Linked DNA regions of Homo sapiens. The protein of the gene in region 1 interacts with the protein of each later gene in a biochemical or structural test. Each region holds a gene or a part of one and is shown in the gene's direction. Other genes may lie near its edges. The genes, in order: TAPBP, TAP2 and TAP1.

Region 1 (7,679 bases):
TCAGACTCTGATTAGCTGCCTCCCCTTCTCCCTGCCTCCAGAATGTTCTGGGATAACATTTGGAGGAAGGTGGGAAGCAGATGACTGAGGAAGGGATGGACTAAGCTAATCCCCTTTTGGTGGTGTTTCTTTAAAAAAAAAAAAAAGCTTAAGTTTTACACAGAAACATTAATAAACAATAAAGTTCTTTTCTTACTGTATCACTGTCTTTTTCTTGTCCTTCTACTGTTACAGATTGGCATTAGCTGTCCCCTTGCTCAGGGTTAGCCCAGTATCCCCGGGGTAGTCCCGCTCTGTCCTTTCTAGCCTGGCCTTTTTTTTTTTTTTTTTTTTTTTGTCTCGCTGTGTCGCCCAGGCCAGGGTGCAGTGGTGAGATCACAGCTCACTGCAGCCTGGACCTCCCAGTCTCAAGCGATAATGCCTCAGCCTCCCGAGTAGCCGGGACTACAGGCGCGTGCCACCATGCCTGGCTAATTTTTGTTTTTGTTGTTTGTATTTTTTGTAGAGACGGGGTTTCGCCACGTTGTTCAGGCAGTACTTTTTTTTTTTTTTAAGTGCTTCAGCCGCCTTAACGCACTTTACTTTTTCACTTCGTGCAGTAGGAGTGAGAAAGCCAATGAGGGGCCGACTCAAGGTTATTTAGCCAATCCAGGCCCGGAGAAAGGGGGCGGGGCTTCAGTGGGACTGTAAGGAGCTAGGAAGAGGGCGATTAGATCCCACCAACCAGCTAATGGTCACAGCTCAGAGGCGGAGCCTGGGGAACGATACCTGGACCCATCGCCAATGGGAAAAGGCAGGCTTATAGCTTTAAAGGGGAATAAATGCTTCGGCCGAACCAAGTCCTGAGCTCCCAGCGGAGGAGGGGACCTGATCTTTTAAGGTGGAATGTGGCGATGTTTCTTTAAAGGCAAAGTGGCCGAGTCGGCCGAGTATTGCCCAGCGGCACGGGCGGGGTGCCCGGCTGTGCCTTTAAAGGCGGAGGGGCGGGAGGCGGAGCGGAGGCGGAGGGCGGAGGGAGTCGGCGCAAGATGGCGGCGGGAGGGGCCCAGGTTGCTGCTCTGGCCGCCGAGTGAGGGGCGGGGGGGGCCCGGGGGCGCGCGGCCCGGTAAGCGGGGACGCGCGAGGTTGGGGGGCGCCTTCCGGGTGGGAGAAGAGGCCGAGGTAGCGCTTGGGGCGGAGCGGGGGGGGGCGGGGTCCGTTGTGGGCGGAGGTAGACAAGGGGCGGGGTCGAAAGGCCCGATAGTGGGCGGGGCACGGGGGGGTGGGCCTGGAAAGGGGCGGGGCTAGAGAAGCTGGGGCGAAAGGGGGCGTGGTCGGCGAGAGAGCTTGGGGGGCATAGCCTGAGGGGAGATGGAGCAAGCGTTGGTTTTCAGTAGCAGAGCTGCCCTGCCCCCTCCCAAAAAGTGGGTGCAAAACACCAAAAAGGTAGATTTTGGAATGTCAGGCTCTCAGGTAAGTCGGAAATAGGGTATAATTCCGAAGGAAGCCACTCCAGCCCCTAAGAGCACCTTATTTCTCTAACCTCCAAGGAAAGGGCACAAGATTTGTCAGATACCTGTGTTTGCTGGCGCTGCCACTTGCTGTGTGACCTTGGATAATCTCTTAATCTTTCTGAGCTTTAGTTTCCTCATCTGTCAAATGGGGTTGAGAGGAATACCTACCTCACTGTTGTGGGGAGTTACACAGATAATGAGCGTGAACATATTTTTGAGTTGTAACGGGCTGTGTCGTTATGAGATGTTATCATTATTCTTTTCTCTTTTTCTTCCCAGAGACCCCCCCGGCCGCCCTCCTCCTTTCTTTGTTCCTGTGGCTGGGGGGGTATCCCCTCCCTCCACAACATGGAGCCATCTCCTCTGTCTCCCAGTGGGGCAGCACTTCCCCTGCCGCTGTCGCTGGCTCCGCCCCCACTACCCCTGCCAGCAGCTGCAGTGGTACATGTGTCCTTCCCTGAGGTGACCAGTGCCCTCTTGGAGTCCCTCAATCAGCAGCGTCTGCAGGGCCAGCTCTGCGATGTATCTATCAGAGTGCAGGGCCGGGAGTTCCGGGCTCATCGGGCTGTCCTGGCTGCCTCCTCCCCTTACTTCCATGATCAGGTCCTACTCAAAGGCATGACCTCCATCTCGCTGCCCAGTGTCATGGACCCAGGCGCCTTTGAGACTGTCCTAGCCTCCGCTTACACTGGCCGCCTCAGCATGGCTGCTGCTGACATTGTCAACTTCCTTACAGTGGGGTCTGTGCTCCAAATGTGGCACATTGTGGACAAGTGCACTGAACTACTCCGAGAAGGCCGGGCCTCAGCTACCACCACCATCACTACTGCTGCAGCCACCTCTGTCACTGTCCCTGGTGCTGGGGTGCCATCCGGGAGTGGGGGCACTGTGGCCCCTGCTACCATGGGCTCTGCGCGCTCCCATGCCTCCAGCCGGGCCAGTGAGAATCAATCTCCCAGCAGCAGCAACTACTTCAGCCCCAGGGAGTCCACTGATTTCTCATCTTCCTCCCAAGAGGCATTTGCAGCTTCTGCAGTGGGCAGTGGGGAGCGTCGAGGAGGTGGCCCTGTATTCCCAGCCCCTGTCGTTGGCAGTGGAGGGGCCACATCTGGAAAGCTGCTGCTGGAGGCAGATGAGCTGTGCGATGATGGTGGGGATGGGAGGGGGGCAGTGGTTCCTGGGGCTGGGCTCCGGAGACCCACCTACACACCCCCTAGCATCATGCCACAGAAACACTGGGTATACGTGAAGCGAGGTGGTAATTGCCCAGCGCCAACACCCCTGGTTCCCCAAGACCCAGATCTGGAGGAGGAAGAGGAGGAGGAAGATCTGGTGTTGACCTGTGAGGATGATGAAGATGAAGAACTAGGGGGTAGCTCCAGGGTTCCAGTGGGGGGAGGGCCTGAGGCTACCCTCAGCATAAGTGATGTCCGTACCCTGAGTGAGCCCCCAGACAAGGGGGAGGAGCAGGTCAACTTCTGTGAGTCCTCCAATGACTTTGGCCCATATGAGGGTGGGGGTCCTGTGGCAGGTCTTGATGACTCAGGGGGGCCAACTCCCTCTTCCTATGCCCCCTCCCACCCTCCTCGACCGCTCCTTCCCTTGGACATGCAGGGCAACCAGATCCTGGTCTTCCCGTCGTCGTCTTCATCCTCATCCTCACAGGCTCCTGGCCAACCACCAGGGAACCAAGCAGAACACGGGGCAGTGACCGTGGGGGGCACGTCGGTGGGGAGCCTGGGTGTGCCGGGTAGCGTTGGTGGGGTCCCTGGAGGGACTGGCAGTGGGGACGGGAATAAGATCTTTCTGTGCCATTGTGGGAAGGCCTTCTCCCACAAGAGCATGCGGGACCGGCACGTGAACATGCACCTCAATCTGCGGCCGTTTGACTGCCCCGTGTGCAACAAAAAGTTCAAGATGAAGCACCATCTGACTGAGCACATGAAGACGCACACAGGTCTCAAGCCCTACGAGTGCGGAGTCTGCGCCAAGAAGTTCATGTGGCGAGACAGCTTCATGCGCCACCGAGGACACTGTGAGCGCCGGCACCGCCTGGGCGGGGTCGGGGCCGTACCTGGGCCTGGGACTCCCACGGGGCCATCCTTGCCGTCCAAGAGAGAGTCTCCCGGAGTGGGCGGGGGCAGCGGCGACGAAGCGAGTGCGGCCACGCCCCCGTCCAGCAGACGTGTCTGGTCCCCACCCAGAGTCCACAAGGTGGAGATGGGCTTCGGTGGAGGTGGAGGAGCAAACTGAAGGGGCAGGCTACTGGGGTGGGGTAGCTTTCGGGAAAGGGAATAAGGAGCACGATGCAAGGGCGCTGTGGCCCCCGGGTGATCTCCCACCACACTTACTGTCTTCCTTTATCTCTGTGGACTTGTATATATTCTGGAAGGGGAACCACAGTTTCACCATCGCCCGCCCATTCTACTACTCAACCCCTCCCCCCCAAGGTATTTCCAGAACTAAACCCTTCCTTTCCCTCTGATGGGTACACTGAAGCCCCTGCTCCACAGAGTAGATTGCACATGGAGGGAGGGAGAGGGGGCGTGTTGAACATCCTGCAGTCACAGGGTCAGGGGTCAGGTGGTTGTAGTCTGTGCCTGAAGTCTGTGTTTGTGTTGTCGTGGAGACAAGGCCTTTGAGCCCCACCCTTGTCCTAGAACCTACCCCCTCTCAAGGATGCGCTCTTTATTTCTACCCTGTCTCTCCCCGCCACCCCCGACTTCCCGTGGAAATTCCCAACTCGGTTCTCATGGAGGAGTGGGTGGAGACAAGGAGGGAGTAAGTCGTAGGAGTACAAGGTTTTTATTTTTTTTAACAGTGATTAAAATATTTATTGGTCATTTACTTGGCTTCCCGATAACCCGTGTGTTTGCTGGGGACGCGGCACAGATAGGGGGAAGCCGGAGTAATGGTTTTCGGGCAAGTGGATGTTGGAGAGCACACACAGGAGTTGGGGGGCGGGGGAGGGCCTGGGGTTGGGGAGGGCTCGAACTCGGGGCTGCTGGGTAGTCCAGGAGGGCGCGGTAAGGCTGGGGTGTCCTGGTGAGAACTGGAGAGGATCTACCCGGGTCCCTGCCTGGCCAGTGGGGAAACACCGGTCCCCCAGGCACCTTCACCTAACCAGAGCGGGGATTTCCACCGCCCCTCATGCCGCCCTTTGGAGGAAAGTGAAAGTGAAAGGAGGAAGAGGAGGCTTCATGGCTGAGGAGGTCGCAGCGCCATGAAGTCCCTGTCTCTGCTCCTCGCTGTGGCTTTGGGTGAGCGAACCCCGCGACTCATCGCCCAAGAACTAGAGGGAAGCGGAGGGAGGTGGCCCCACTGGAGCCGATGCCAGGGTGGGAGTGGGGCAGGTCACCAGACATACAAACCGCTCCTCACTCGCGTCCCTATACGCCAGGCCTGGCGACCGCCGTCTCAGCAGGACCCGCGGTGATCGAGTGTTGGTTCGTGGAGGATGCGAGCGGAAAGGGCCTGGCCAAGAGACCCGGTGCACTGCTGTTGCGCCAGGGACCGGGGGAACCGCCGCCCCGGCCGGACCTCGACCCTGAGCTCTATCTCAGTGTACACGGTGAGTCTCTAGGGACTCGCCGCCCCCCTACCTCTGTCGCCTCCACCGAAACCCCCTCCTCTTTAGATCCGGCAGTGACCTCAGGCCTCAGCTTCCCCTTTGTAAAGTGAGTCTCACTACGGGGTAGTCTGTGCATTTGAAGTTCCCCGAACGCTGCCCTTCCAGCCCCTTTCCCGGCGGTGACTCTACAGCTGCAACTTCCTTCTCTACACTCAGACCCCGCGGGCGCCCTCCAGGCTGCCTTCAGGCGGTATCCCCGGGGCGCCCCCGCACCACACTGCGAGATGAGCCGCTTCGTGCCTCTCCCCGCCTCTGCGAAATGGGCCAGCGGCCTGACCCCCGCGCAGAACTGCCCGCGGGCCCTGGATGGGGCTTGGCTGATGGTCAGCATATCCAGCCCAGTCCTCAGCCTCTCCAGCCTCTTGCGACCACAGCCAGAGCCTCAGCAGGAGCCTGTTCTCATCACCATGGCAACAGGTAGCTGGGGAGGGGAGGTGGAGAAGGGTGGGTAGATTCTAAGGGTCCAGATCAGCCGGTGGTCTCGCTTTATGGACTTGAGCAAGACATTTCGCCAATCGGGGTTCAGTTTCCTTTTTTTGTTAAGAGAGGTGGTTTGGCTAGAATGAATCAATCTCTACCGCTCCTTCTAGCCCTCACCCAGTTAAAAAAAAAAAACAAAAAAAAAACTGCAGCTTGGCAGGGGGTAGGGGGAAAGCAGGGCCGGGCAGGGGGGTTACTTTCTGGTGTTTCGAAGGGCGGGGCTTTGAAGAGGTGGGGTTTCCCGACACCAGACCTTGAGAGACTTGTCAGGTGATGCGAGGTGGGAGGGGTTCAGAAGCAGGAGCGTTTTTTCTCTGCTCTTCCCAGATCTGTGTCTTGCTCTGCACCCTCAGCTTTGCGGGTCACTCTTTCAAAACCCAGCACTCTATCCCCACCTGCGCCCACACCCGGCGCTGCGGCAATCCGCAAAGCAAAGGCTCTTGCACTCTAGCGCGTTGACCTTGCCTGACAGCCCCGTGTAGGGATGTGCTGCCGCTCTGTGGTCCGCAAACAGGTGGGCTCGAGTGGGCGGATGGACGCGGCTGGAGATTGGATAGCTCCTATTGCACTGAAAGGTGCATTGCAGTTTGAGGCCCAGGAGTCAGAAGCTTTTCTAGGCTGGGACGTGGGAGGGACTGTGCAGATAATTCAAGAATGAGGAGAGTCTGACCTGGATATCTGGGAGCTCTCCCTCCTGGCAGCGGAGGCGGGGTATTCCGGGGTAGAATACCGGTAGAGTTCTTAGCTTTTCTATCTGGATTTTATGTCAGCGACACAGCCCGATGGACAGGGCAACCCCAACCAATCCCTGCACCCTCCCTTCCCTCCACCCTCCTGAGAATTACCCACAGAACCAGGGAGACAGACTTGAAACCCACGCTGAAACCCTCACCTCTGCCTATACCTCCATTCTTAGTCTCAAGCCCCCACCCTGGCAGAAGCTGAGGAACACTGCTCTTGTGTAGACAGTAGCTCTCTCTGGTGGGGTGGAATATTTCCTAGGGCTACTGGCTCCACCGAGGTGATGATGAGAATGGTCTTTGCTTTCTGAGTTTGTTTTTCCAACTGTAAAATGTGGATACTATTTCCCAGCTGCTTTTCTTGTTGTGACTATCAAGAGATGGCACTGTGTTAATTTATCCATTGATTCAATAAATACTTTTTAGCACCAAGAATGAGTTAGGACTCAGCAGTTCTCAGTCCACACTGTTGGAGGTTTCTAAAATATACTGAAACCTGATTCAATCCCATGCTTAGCTTGGCCGATTAAATCAGAATCTCTGGGGTGGCCCTGGGTGCCCTTAAGGGTCACAAAGATGATCTGATGTAGACTCTGCTCTCCAGGAGGTTCTGGGCGTATTTGCCACGGATAATCCTAATGTAAAGTAGAAAGTGAAGGACATGCAGACAGGGAGCCCTGGAAGTGCCCGGGTGGTAAGATTGTCTGTATTTCACAAACAACTGGGGTCAAAGCAAGGTGCTGTGCTATTTATTTATTTTTATTTTATTTATTTATTTATTTTTGAGACAGAGTTTTGCTCTTGTTGCCCAGGCTGGAGTGCAATGGCGTGATCTCACGCTCACCGGAACCTCCGCCTCCCTGGTTCAAGCAATTCTCCTGCCTCAGCCTCCCGAGTAGCTGGGATTACAGGTGCCTGCCACCACACCCAGCTAATTTTGTATTTTTAGTAGAGATGAGGTTTCTCCATGTTGGTAAGGCTGGTCTCGAACTCCCAACTTCAGGTGATCCTCCCACCTCGCCTCCCGAAGTGCTGGGATTACAAGCGTGAGCCACTGCGCCTGCCTGCTATTTATTTATTTATTTATTTTTGAGACGGAGTCTCCCTCTTATTGCCCAGGCTAGAGTGCAGTTGCAGTGGCATGATCTTGGCTCACTGCAACCTCCGTCTCCCATGTTCAAGCAATTCTTGTGCCTTAGCCTCCCCAGTAGCTGGGATTACAGGCTTGTGCCACCACGCCCACCTAATTTTTGTATTTTTATTGGAGACAGGTTTCACCATGTTGGCCAGGATGGTCTTGAACTCCTGACCTAAGGTGATCCACCCACCTTGGCC
Region 2 (3,946 bases), 490 kb from region 1:
GACTGAGGCCCCAGGGATACTGGGCCCTCTTCTCAGGGGCGTCTCCAGGACCCAGAGCTGTTCCTGCTTTGAGTTTCCCTAGAGCTGTGCGGCCAGATAGCTGTTCCTGAGTTGCAGGCACGATGGAGATTTGGACACTGTGTGCTTTTGGTGGGGTAGAGAGGTGGGGTGGGGTGGGGTGGGGGCTGTCTGTGTCCAGGAAACTTAATTCCCTGGTGACTAGAGCTTTGCCTGGTGATGAGGAGTATTTTGTGGCATAATACATATATTTTAAAATATTTTCCTTCTTACATGAACTGTATACATTCATATAGAAAATTTAGACAATATAAAAAAGTACAAAGAAGAAAAGTAAAAGTACCCATTGTTTCACTTCCTGGAGATAACCATAGTTGCTATTTTGCTGCCTGTCCCATCAGTCGTTTATCTGTTGTTTGAGATAGAAATTAACCAAAAATGACATAAATATTCATGAGATTGCCTTCCTATATCCTTCCTTGTTCCTACCAGTGTCTGCTATTTTGAAGAAGCTAGGGTCTGGAGGGACAGAGAACAGTTCCCTGATTAACAGTATTAATAGCGACATTGGTAACAGCTACCATTTATAGAGTTTTAATGGGAGTAGGAGCTATGCTAAGTGTTTTTCATGTATTATCGTTTTTAATCATTATCCCCAACCCTATGAGGTTGGTTATTATCCCCATTTTACAGATGAGGAAACTGAAGCTCAAAGAGGCTCAATGACTTTCCCAAGGTGGTCGTAGTGGTGGAGTTGGAGTTTGAACACAGGCCTGACCCTAGAGTCCACACCCTGACCCAATCAATTATATTGCATCTTGGGTCCATAAACCCTAATCCATAATCCCATCAAGAAAAGCTCTGCTGCTCTTAGCTCTAAATAATTCAGAATCTATTCTCTTCTCTCCAGTCCCGTTGTTATAGTCTTCACTCATAGACTTAAGATGATCCCATCACCAGAGAGGTTTCTCTACCATTAGCTTCCCTCTTCCGGCCATTCTTCACAAAGTCATTTTTCTAAATTCTGTGTCACATACGATGATGGCATTTCTGGAAATTCCTTCAGGTGCTCTCAAGCCCTGCTGCAGAGATCCTTTTCAGAGCACACACTGTTCCAGCCCATCTGTCTCACCCTCTCCTGTTGTATCCAGCTCCACGACAAACTTCTGCCTTCCCCAACACCTTTGTGCCTTTGCATATGGTGTTTTCTTGCCCATTTTCTGCTCGACTCGCCCCTGATTTTCAAGTTCAAGACTTAACTCAGGGTTCAGGTCTTCCAGGAGGCCTTACTTATGTCGTCAGTCTGGGGAACTCTCCATGTGCTTCTATCACTGTGCGGTTACCTCTTTCACAGCCCTTTTAAAGTTCTATCTTCCCTTTCCCACCTTTTTTGACCTTCCACTAGACCATGAGCACCTGGGCGGAAAGCCATATATCTTATTAAGCTTTATATCTGCTACCTGGCCGAGGGCCTAATTCATAGTGGAGAATAAATAGTCAATTGAATAAATGAATAAATATCTCCACCATCGTACTAATCTTAATCCTCCCTGCCCACTCCCACCACTGAAAATGCAACATTGTACACATCACTGGTTGTTGGGAGGGACTTACCTTGGAAAGTTGCTATTCTAGGAAAGAGAAACCTTCATATTCCTGGAAACAGCAGGTAGTTTCCAGTGCTGGCAATGAATTCCCCAGAACTGCTGTTTTGGATTTTTTCTTGCCTGGCAGCTGTTGGGAGCAGGGTGCAGTGAGGATGGGGTGAGAGTGGGCAGTTTCTTGTGCAGATTTGCCTTTCTTTCATCCTGGGGCTGACTTGCAGCTCCACACCCATCCATCTCTCAAATTTCACAGAGGGTAAAATAGGCATTTGGAGAGAAAGAACTCTGGCCTGATTCCTTTCTCTCCCACAAATGTCCTTTATTCATAAAACAGGAATAATAATTCCTGTATCTCCCAACTACATGGAAGCTGCAGCCCTCACAGAAGAAGATGATCTGAGAAATTCTTTGATTTCCTCAGTACAGTTATACCCATGCATCATAATACTTTAAGCCTGGAAGGCATCTTAAAAATAATGCAACAGTCAAACCTAATTTTACAGAGAAACTGACATGAAATCACGCAGCTAATCATGATAAAGCTGGGTGGAAAACTTATCTTGATGGGCAGTACAGGAAGATGCAGTAGACCTTAAGATGTCCTGAAAGTTTCTTATCTCAGGGGAAACTCCCAGGTAGGCTTTATGTCAGGGACACAGAAAAATGCTCCCTGAAAGTCAAAATATTCGGGCTAGACAGACAAATTCCTGTAAGTGTGGTTTGTCTGGGAACCACAGATGTCACTAATCCTGGTTTGCTCCAGAGTTCTTTTTGTTCACTCCTACCCCCCATCACCATTTGATTGATCTCCTTACCCTGTAATTTCCCCTTCTTGTCGCTTACCTGCAGTATCTTTCCCACCCAGGCATGCCTTATTCTTTCTAAAGGAAAGTATGAATGGAGAGGGGAAAGCTTGGGAAACTGATAGATTTCCTTGGATGCCAAAACACCTCCATAGCCTGTCTGCCCGGCCCTATGTGGAAACAGCATTGAGTTTCAAGTCCTTTATGCCTCCACCCAGGGATAGCCACTTGTAATCCACATGGCAATTGTGAAACAAGCAGGAAATGCGTAATTGTCAGAATTTTGTGGGGAAAGGACTAGGGAATAAGGAAAACAAAGATCTTCCTTGTGTTTTAGAGCTGTCAGCTAGAGGAGCACCTGCTTGAGTCTGATGCCATCTAATGGTCCCAGAAGAAACTGGGTTTTGAACCTAGAGTTCCATGGACTCTTAGGAATTAGACTACTACTACTACTAAGCATTCACTGGTGCTTACTATGTGCTATTGCTGTGCCAAGTATCTGAAACCTGTCTTCTTACCTTATTTTTCAAGATAATTCTATGTGGCAGGTATTACTATCTCAATTCTAAGAGTGAGAAAATGGAGTTTTAGAAACATTTACTAACTTGCCTGGGTCACATAGCTAAGGAAGAGGTGGACTTGCCCAGCTTTGCATAAAACTCCTCAAAAGAGTTGCCTATACTCCCTGACTCCACTTATCTTCCTACTATCCTCTTTTTAAAATATATTATTTATTTATTTAAATAAGCAATATATGAATGTGGTTTGAAATTCAAAAGACACAAAGAAGTATACAGAGGAAAGCCTCACTCTCAATCCTTCTCAAGGTTTGCTAATTCCTCTTGCATAGGCAATCCGTTCTTCCAGCTTTGTGTTTATCTTTCCAGAGAAGTTTACTGTGTATTAAGCAAATATGTATATCTTTATTCTTGCTCAGTATTTTCGCAAACAGCAGCTGTCTAAGTTCACTGTTCTGAACTTTATTTTTTAAATTAAAAATATATGGCTATGTAGTATTCTATTTTATGGAAGTTCCATATTTCATTTATCCTGTTTCCTTCTACTGATGGCTAGTTAGGTTATTGGAAGTCTTTTGCTGTTGCTAGTTAGTCTTGTATAGACATTGTAATGCACATGTGCAAAAATACAAGTATGATACAATCTTAAAGGGGAGTTGCTGAGTCCAATATATACATTACAAATATTGATAGATATTGCAAAATTGCCTTCATAGAGGCTATATTAATTTATAGTTCCAGCAGCAACATATGAGTTTATCTGTTTCTCCATATATATATATATGTATATAACCAACAGACAGTGTTAATTTTTAAAATTTTGACAATCTTCTGGGTGAAAGTAGCATTGTATTGTAGTTATCATTTGCTTTTTAATATTATCATGTAAGTAACAGAGATACTAAACCCAGAAGGATAAGGGAGCAAAGATGAGAAAAATAAACACACACACAAACAACAATAACAAATCTGTCTAAAATATTGGAAAATCAGAATGAGAAAT
Region 3 (6,117 bases), 470 kb from region 1:
GGAACACCCTGTCCCTGTGGTCCATGTTCCCAGGTTGCTCAACATTAACCTCCATACTCTCTGGGTCTTCTTTTCTAGCTTCTCCCCACAATCTGTCTTTAAGAATTTGATCCCCAACCCGTTCTGAGTCATTTTCCTCTTCCTCGTATTTCTTTAGCATCCAAGGGGCATAGCTGTGTCTCTTTCTCTTTTCTCCTTTTCCTCTGTCTCTTCTCACCTTTAATTTCCAAATAGGTAACTCAGGTATTAGTGTCCCTGATGGTTTGCCAACCCGTGTGACATCTCTTGTCCATGTATCCACAGTTGCTGGAAGTGCAGGTGCGGGAATCTCTGGCAAAGTCCAGCCAGGTGGCCATTGAGGCTCTGTCGGCCATGCCTACAGTTCGAAGCTTTGCCAACGAGGAGGGCGAAGCCCAGAAGTTTAGGGAAAAGCTGCAAGAAATAAAGACACTCAACCAGAAGGAGGCTGTGGCCTATGCAGTCAACTCCTGGACCACTAGTGTGAGCACCTGAAGATGAATACCCATTCCCTTGTCCTTAAGATGCCGTGACTCCATTCCCATTCCTATGACCCTGCTCCCACTCCTCCTTTACTGGGAAATGGTTGGTTCAGTATTTTCGTCCTAGCAACCTGAGGCTCAATGACTCTACTCAGTGTCCCTAGCCCCCTCCCTCTCTTTAAAGATGCTAGGTGGCTTCCTTTCAGTATGGTACATAAAATCCACCCAACCATGTGGATTGGAGAGATGCGTGTCTTCCAGTCCTAGGGCCTTCCTTTGCCTCTCAGGGGAAGTGCAGGGCGCCATAAATTCTTGCACCTGGGACTGCTTCATGCTGGTACCTTGTAGATTTGTTAGTGAGAGTGATGGGAATAGTGGAAGCCAGGGATGAGGGACATCTGTGATGCACTGGAAAGAGAGCTACGCCAGTGATCCGAAGATCCTGGCTTGATGATGCAATTTACTTGTCTTGTGATCATGACAACAAATTTACCTTCTCTGAGACTGTTTCCTCTTTATTTATTTATTTGTTTGTTTGTTTGTTTATTTTTACTTATTATTATTATTTTTGAGCTGGAGTCTCGCTTTGTCGCCCAGGCTGGAGTGCAGTGGCGCGATCTGGGCTCACTGCAAGCTCCGCCTCCCGGGTTCACGCCGTTCTCCCGCCTCAGCCTCCTGAGTAGCTGGGACTACAGGCACCCGCCACCACGCCCGGCTAATTTTTTTTTTTTTTTTGTATTTTTAGTAGAGACGAGGTTTCTCCGTGTTAGCCAGGATGGTCTCAATCTCCTGACCTTGTGATCCGCCCACTTCGGCCTCCCAAAGTGCTGGAATTGCAGGCATGAGCCACTGCGCCCGACTGGTTGTTTCCTCATTTTTCAAAAATGGAGTGATATAACCTTCTTTATAAGGCTCTTCATGTATTAGCTGACATCACATGAATGAAAGCCTTTTGTGAAGAGTAAAATGCTCCCCAGACAAGGTGATAGTGGTGATGGTGGTGAAGATAACTGTGACTTGCATGATGTGCATTGAGTCAGACTCCATGGGGTCTCTGGTTCATTCTCCTGTCTGCCTATTGAGCCTGCCGATGTCACTTAGGAGACAGGGACTTGATATTTCCTTCAGGTTAATGACTGCGGTTCTTTGTGTCCCCTCCAGATTTCTCTACCTCAGTCCCTTTTTTTGTGGTCTCTTTATAGATTTCAGGTATGCTGCTGAAAGTGGGAATCCTCTACATTGGTGGGCAGCTGGTGACCAGTGGGGCTGTAAGCAGTGGGAACCTTGTCACATTTGTTCTCTACCAGATGCAGTTCACCCAGGCTGTGGAGGTGAGGTCCCTCCACCTTCACTCCCCAGTGTGATTCCTTCCTCTGGCCCAGCACCATCTGTGTGATGTCCTTCCATTCTTTACCCTTCTTGCTTCACATAATGCTGGCAAGCAGACTACCTCACTTTCACTATTCTTACCTCCCTCTAGGTACTGCTCTCCATCTACCCCAGAGTACAGAAGGCTGTGGGCTCCTCAGAGAAAATATTTGAGTACCTGGACCGCACCCCTCGCTGCCCACCCAGTGGTCTGTTGACTCCCTTACACTTGGAGGGCCTTGTCCAGTTCCAAGATGTCTCCTTTGCCTACCCAAACCGCCCAGATGTCTTAGTGCTACAGGTACAACCTACCACTCCCTGTATTCCACTGGCCCCAACTGCAATTCTGCCATCCTAAATTTTCTTCCTGCCTTCAGCCTGCTTACTGCCAAGCATATATCCTCCCTAACCCTTTAAAGGCAATGGTAGGCATCATCTGTTCCATAAATCTTCCCCAAACTCAAGAACCCAGTTTGGGCTTCCAAAGAGAATGAGAGAAGAGGTTTCGAAGAGAGTGCTCTCACGTTCCAAGGAATTGCTGCAGCAAAATCTGTGTCTTCGGTCTTCCATCTTTCCTTTTCCTTTGTAATTTGGAATGTGATTTTTCCCTTTCCTGGTGGTATCTGACATCAAGTGTGTGGCATAGTGGTGCTGGGTCTCTGCCCTTGTCTTTGCCGCTTCTTCTATCTCTACTCCTTGGGGAGGCATCACCCAGAAATCTGTGCATGTGGGAGGGTAGGAGTTTCTATATTTCCCTGTTTTTCTTCTGGGGTAAGACATCATGCTATGTAACAAGGCAATGACACTCTCAAGGTTAGAGGCCTTGGTAGCCTCTTATCGTGTGCTTCTCTGGCCTCTAGGGGCTGACATTCACCCTACGCCCTGGCGAGGTGACGGCGCTGGTGGGACCCAATGGGTCTGGGAAGAGCACAGTGGCTGCCCTGCTGCAGAATCTGTACCAGCCCACCGGGGGACAGCTGCTGTTGGATGGGAAGCCCCTTCCCCAATATGAGCACCGCTACCTGCACAGGCAGGTATGGAAGCAGGTGGCTTGAAGGAGGGCAGGGAGCATCAAATACGAAGAGCATTCTTACTGAGCACTCTGAAAGAGGGGTTAGGGAATGATAAGAGACCTTGGGTGGAGATGGTGGTGTAGTCAGGAGGGAGGTAGTATGATTTTGTGACATGTTCTCAATAAAGATTTTGAGTCTTCGATCTCTAGATAACCATACTCCCATGTGCCTTGTTCTATGACTCTTCATCATATTTCATCTCAGGTGGCTGCAGTGGGACAAGAGCCACAGGTATTTGGAAGAAGTCTTCAAGAAAATATTGCCTATGGCCTGACCCAGAAGCCAACTATGGAGGAAATCACAGCTGCTGCAGTAAAGTCTGGGGCCCATAGTTTCATCTCTGGACTCCCTCAGGGCTATGACACAGGTACTCTCTCCACTCATCTCACCACCCAGCCATCTTTACCTTTGCTGAAACCCCAGTAGTCTTGCCTTTATCCTTCAGTTCCTCCTTACTCATGGACATCAATTTGAAGTTGTAAGATCATGCTCCTATGGCTTCTTCATCCTGACATCCTCAGGATTCTGTTCATCTTCCCAGAATCTCCCCTATCCAGCTACAACCGTCAGATCTTGGTGTGTGTGAGTGCGTGAATGCATGAGTGTGTCTGTGTGCATGTACATGCGTGCACACATGTGGCTATACCGTTCTCATCTTGGCCCTTTGCTCTGCAGAGGTAGACGAGGCTGGGAGCCAGCTGTCAGGGGGTCAGCGACAGGCAGTGGCGTTGGCCCGAGCATTGATCCGGAAACCGTGTGTACTTATCCTGGATGATGCCACCAGTGCCCTGGATGCAAACAGCCAGTTACAGGTGAGGCAGTCATCTTCTTAATGGCTATATCCCACCCAATCTTGCTTCTTTTATACATCTTCTGTTAGTTTTACTAACATCATAATTATACAAACCAGTCCTTGCAGTTCTCAGTTCCCAAATCCAGTTCCATTGGATGCCTCCCCAAGGAGTAGAGATAGAAGACGAGGCAAAGACACCTAGAATCAGTTAAAAGAGACTATCTACAAACTACAGACTGAATTTCTTTCTTTCTTTCCTTTTTTTTTTTTAAGACAGTGTCTCACTCAGTTGCCCAGGCTGGAGCGCAGTGGCACAATCTTGGCTCACTGCAGCTTCAACCTGCTGGGCTCAAGCGATTCTCCCCTCAGCCTCCCGAGTAGCTGGGACTACAGGTGTACACCACTATGCCTGGTTGACTTTTATATTTTTAGTAGAGATGGGTTTCACCATGTTGCCCAGGCTGGCCTTGAATTCCTGAGCTCAGGTAATCTGCCCCCCTCAGCCTCCCAAAGGGCTGGGGTTATAGGTGTGAGCCACTGCGCCCAGTCCTATAGACTGAATTTCTAAAGCGAAACATAAGGAAAAGACCATCCTCATAATATCGTTTATTTAAAAAAATTATTTTTTGTACAGACAGCGTCCCGCTATGTTGCCCAGGCTGGCCTTGAACTCCTGGGCCCAAGTGATCCTCCCTCCTTGACCTCCCAAAGTGCTAGGATTATAGGCATGAGCCACCGGGCCCAGCCCATCCTAATCATATTAATATTAATTAAGCTAGTCTGTTTACATGCACTGTCACTCATTTATTCATTAGGAATCCTTCTGAGCTAGGCATTTATCATCATTCTACAGATGACAAAATGGAGGTTAAAAGAGGTTGAATAAGCTGCTCATATAGAGGTCATATAGCTTTTGAGTGGCGCAGCCTTGACCCAAATTCAGGTCTGCCTGACTTGAATGCTCATCTCTTTACTACTAAGTTATATTTCCTTAAAATCGAATATAAAAATGCCAAGTCCATGGGTAGAGAAGAGGACTATTCAATAGTCTTTATTCTTCTGTCACGTGTTTCACCCTAGGGTTCTCATTTTTATCCTACTTTTGCACCCTTCATGTAAAACAGTCCTTAATGAAACAAAGGGTTTGCGGAGAAGTACTCAGAATGGGAAACGTTGGTGTCCTTGGGGTTGTTAGCAGAGCCAGCAGTGATCCTGTGAGGTCAGTCCCAGCCCTGGAAACACAGGTGTCTCCCTGGGCTGAGGGTAGTCCCCGGCTCTGACGGTCCGATGTCTTTCCTCAGGTGGAGCAGCTCCTGTACGAAAGCCCTGAGCGGTACTCCCGCTCAGTGCTTCTCATCACCCAGCACCTCAGCCTGGTGGAGCAGGCTGACCACATCCTCTTTCTGGAAGGAGGCGCTATCCGGGAGGGGGGAACCCACCAGCAGCTCATGGAGAAAAAGGGGTGCTACTGGGCCATGGTGCAGGCTCCTGCAGATGCTCCAGAATGAAAGCCTTCTCAGACCTGCGCACTCCATCTCCCTCCCTTTTCTTCTCTCTGTGGTGGAGAACCACAGCTGCAGAGTAGGCAGCTGCCTCCAGGATGAGTTACTTGAAATTTGCCTTGAGTGTGTTACCTCCTTTCCAAGCTCCTCGTGATAATGCAGACTTCCTGGAGTACAAACACAGGATTTGTAATTCCTTACTGTAACGGAGTTTAGAGCCAGGGCTGATGCTTTGGTGTGGCCAGCACTCTGAAACTGAGAAATGTTCAGAATGTACGGAAAGATGATCAGCTATTTTCAACATAACTGAAGGCATATGCTGGCCCATAAACACCCTGTAGGTTCTTGATATTTATAATAAAATTGGTGTTTTGTACTGTGGTTTCTTATGTTTCCGGCACACCAAACGGCCCACTGCCTTTTGCAGCGCACTTTTCAGCTGCGGATGTCTCCTCTTTTATCATCCTCAATGTTTTACCCCCTAACTGCATCACCTTTTCCCTTAAGCTTTTTAATTCCTATGAGGCCCCTTCCACTTCCCCTATCCCCTTAGGCCCACCCCCAAGAATGTGCAAGACCCCAGCCACAGGGCCCATCAGGGCACTAGCGGCCGCAGCTCAGAGCCGTGGCCTCTCCGAAGTGGCAGATGGGGCGGGCGCGGCCAGAGCAAGTGCCAGGCGGGAACAGAGGGACTGGGCGCGCCTCACAACTCACCACCTCGCCCGCTGGTCCTTCCTGGCTCGCCTGGCTCTGAAGCTGCACCTGGAGGGGAAACCTCAGAACAGTAGGCGGGATTGCCTAGTAAATATCTCCCATTCAGGGAGGCCCAGGTCGTGTGACGTCGACAGTTGCTGGGTAGATGAGGCCAACACAGGTTGCAA

What was found.
Region 2: the proteins of TAPBP (region 1) and TAP2 form a complex in vitro, tested with the Homo sapiens proteins (one study listed by BioGRID).
Region 3: the proteins of TAPBP (region 1) and TAP1 form a complex in vitro, tested with the Homo sapiens proteins (one study listed by BioGRID).

The regions. Positions count from the first base shown.
Region 1 is NC_000006.12:33,311,079-33,318,757, reverse strand, and holds the start of TAPBP (tapasin isoform 1 precursor), read left to right. Parts: upstream 1-4,679; 5' UTR 4,680-4,716; coding exon 4,717-4,753; intron 4,754-4,893; coding exon 4,894-5,064; intron 5,065-5,280; coding exon 5,281-5,541; intron 5,542-7,679. Other genes in the region: DAXX (death domain-associated protein 6), read left to right, coding at 1-15; ZBTB22 (zinc finger and BTB domain-containing protein 22), read left to right, coding at 1,842-3,746. UniProt on the Homo sapiens protein: Involved in the association of MHC class I with transporter associated with antigen processing (TAP) and in the assembly of MHC class I with peptide (peptide loading).
Region 2 is NC_000006.12:32,824,915-32,828,860, reverse strand, and holds the end of TAP2 (antigen peptide transporter 2), read left to right. Parts: 3' UTR 1-3,446; downstream 3,447-3,946. UniProt on the Homo sapiens protein: ABC transporter associated with antigen processing. In complex with TAP1 mediates unidirectional translocation of peptide antigens from cytosol to endoplasmic reticulum (ER) for loading onto MHC class I (MHCI) molecules.
Region 3 is NC_000006.12:32,844,704-32,850,820, reverse strand, and holds the end of TAP1 (antigen peptide transporter 1), read left to right. Parts: intron 1-303; coding exon 304-501; intron 502-1,702; coding exon 1,703-1,831; intron 1,832-1,980; coding exon 1,981-2,169; intron 2,170-2,728; coding exon 2,729-2,902; intron 2,903-3,145; coding exon 3,146-3,308; intron 3,309-3,616; coding exon 3,617-3,753; intron 3,754-4,320; exon of another isoform or gene 4,321-5,035; coding exon 5,036-5,242; 3' UTR 5,243-5,612; downstream 5,613-6,117. UniProt on the Homo sapiens protein: ABC transporter associated with antigen processing. In complex with TAP2 mediates unidirectional translocation of peptide antigens from cytosol to endoplasmic reticulum (ER) for loading onto MHC class I (MHCI) molecules.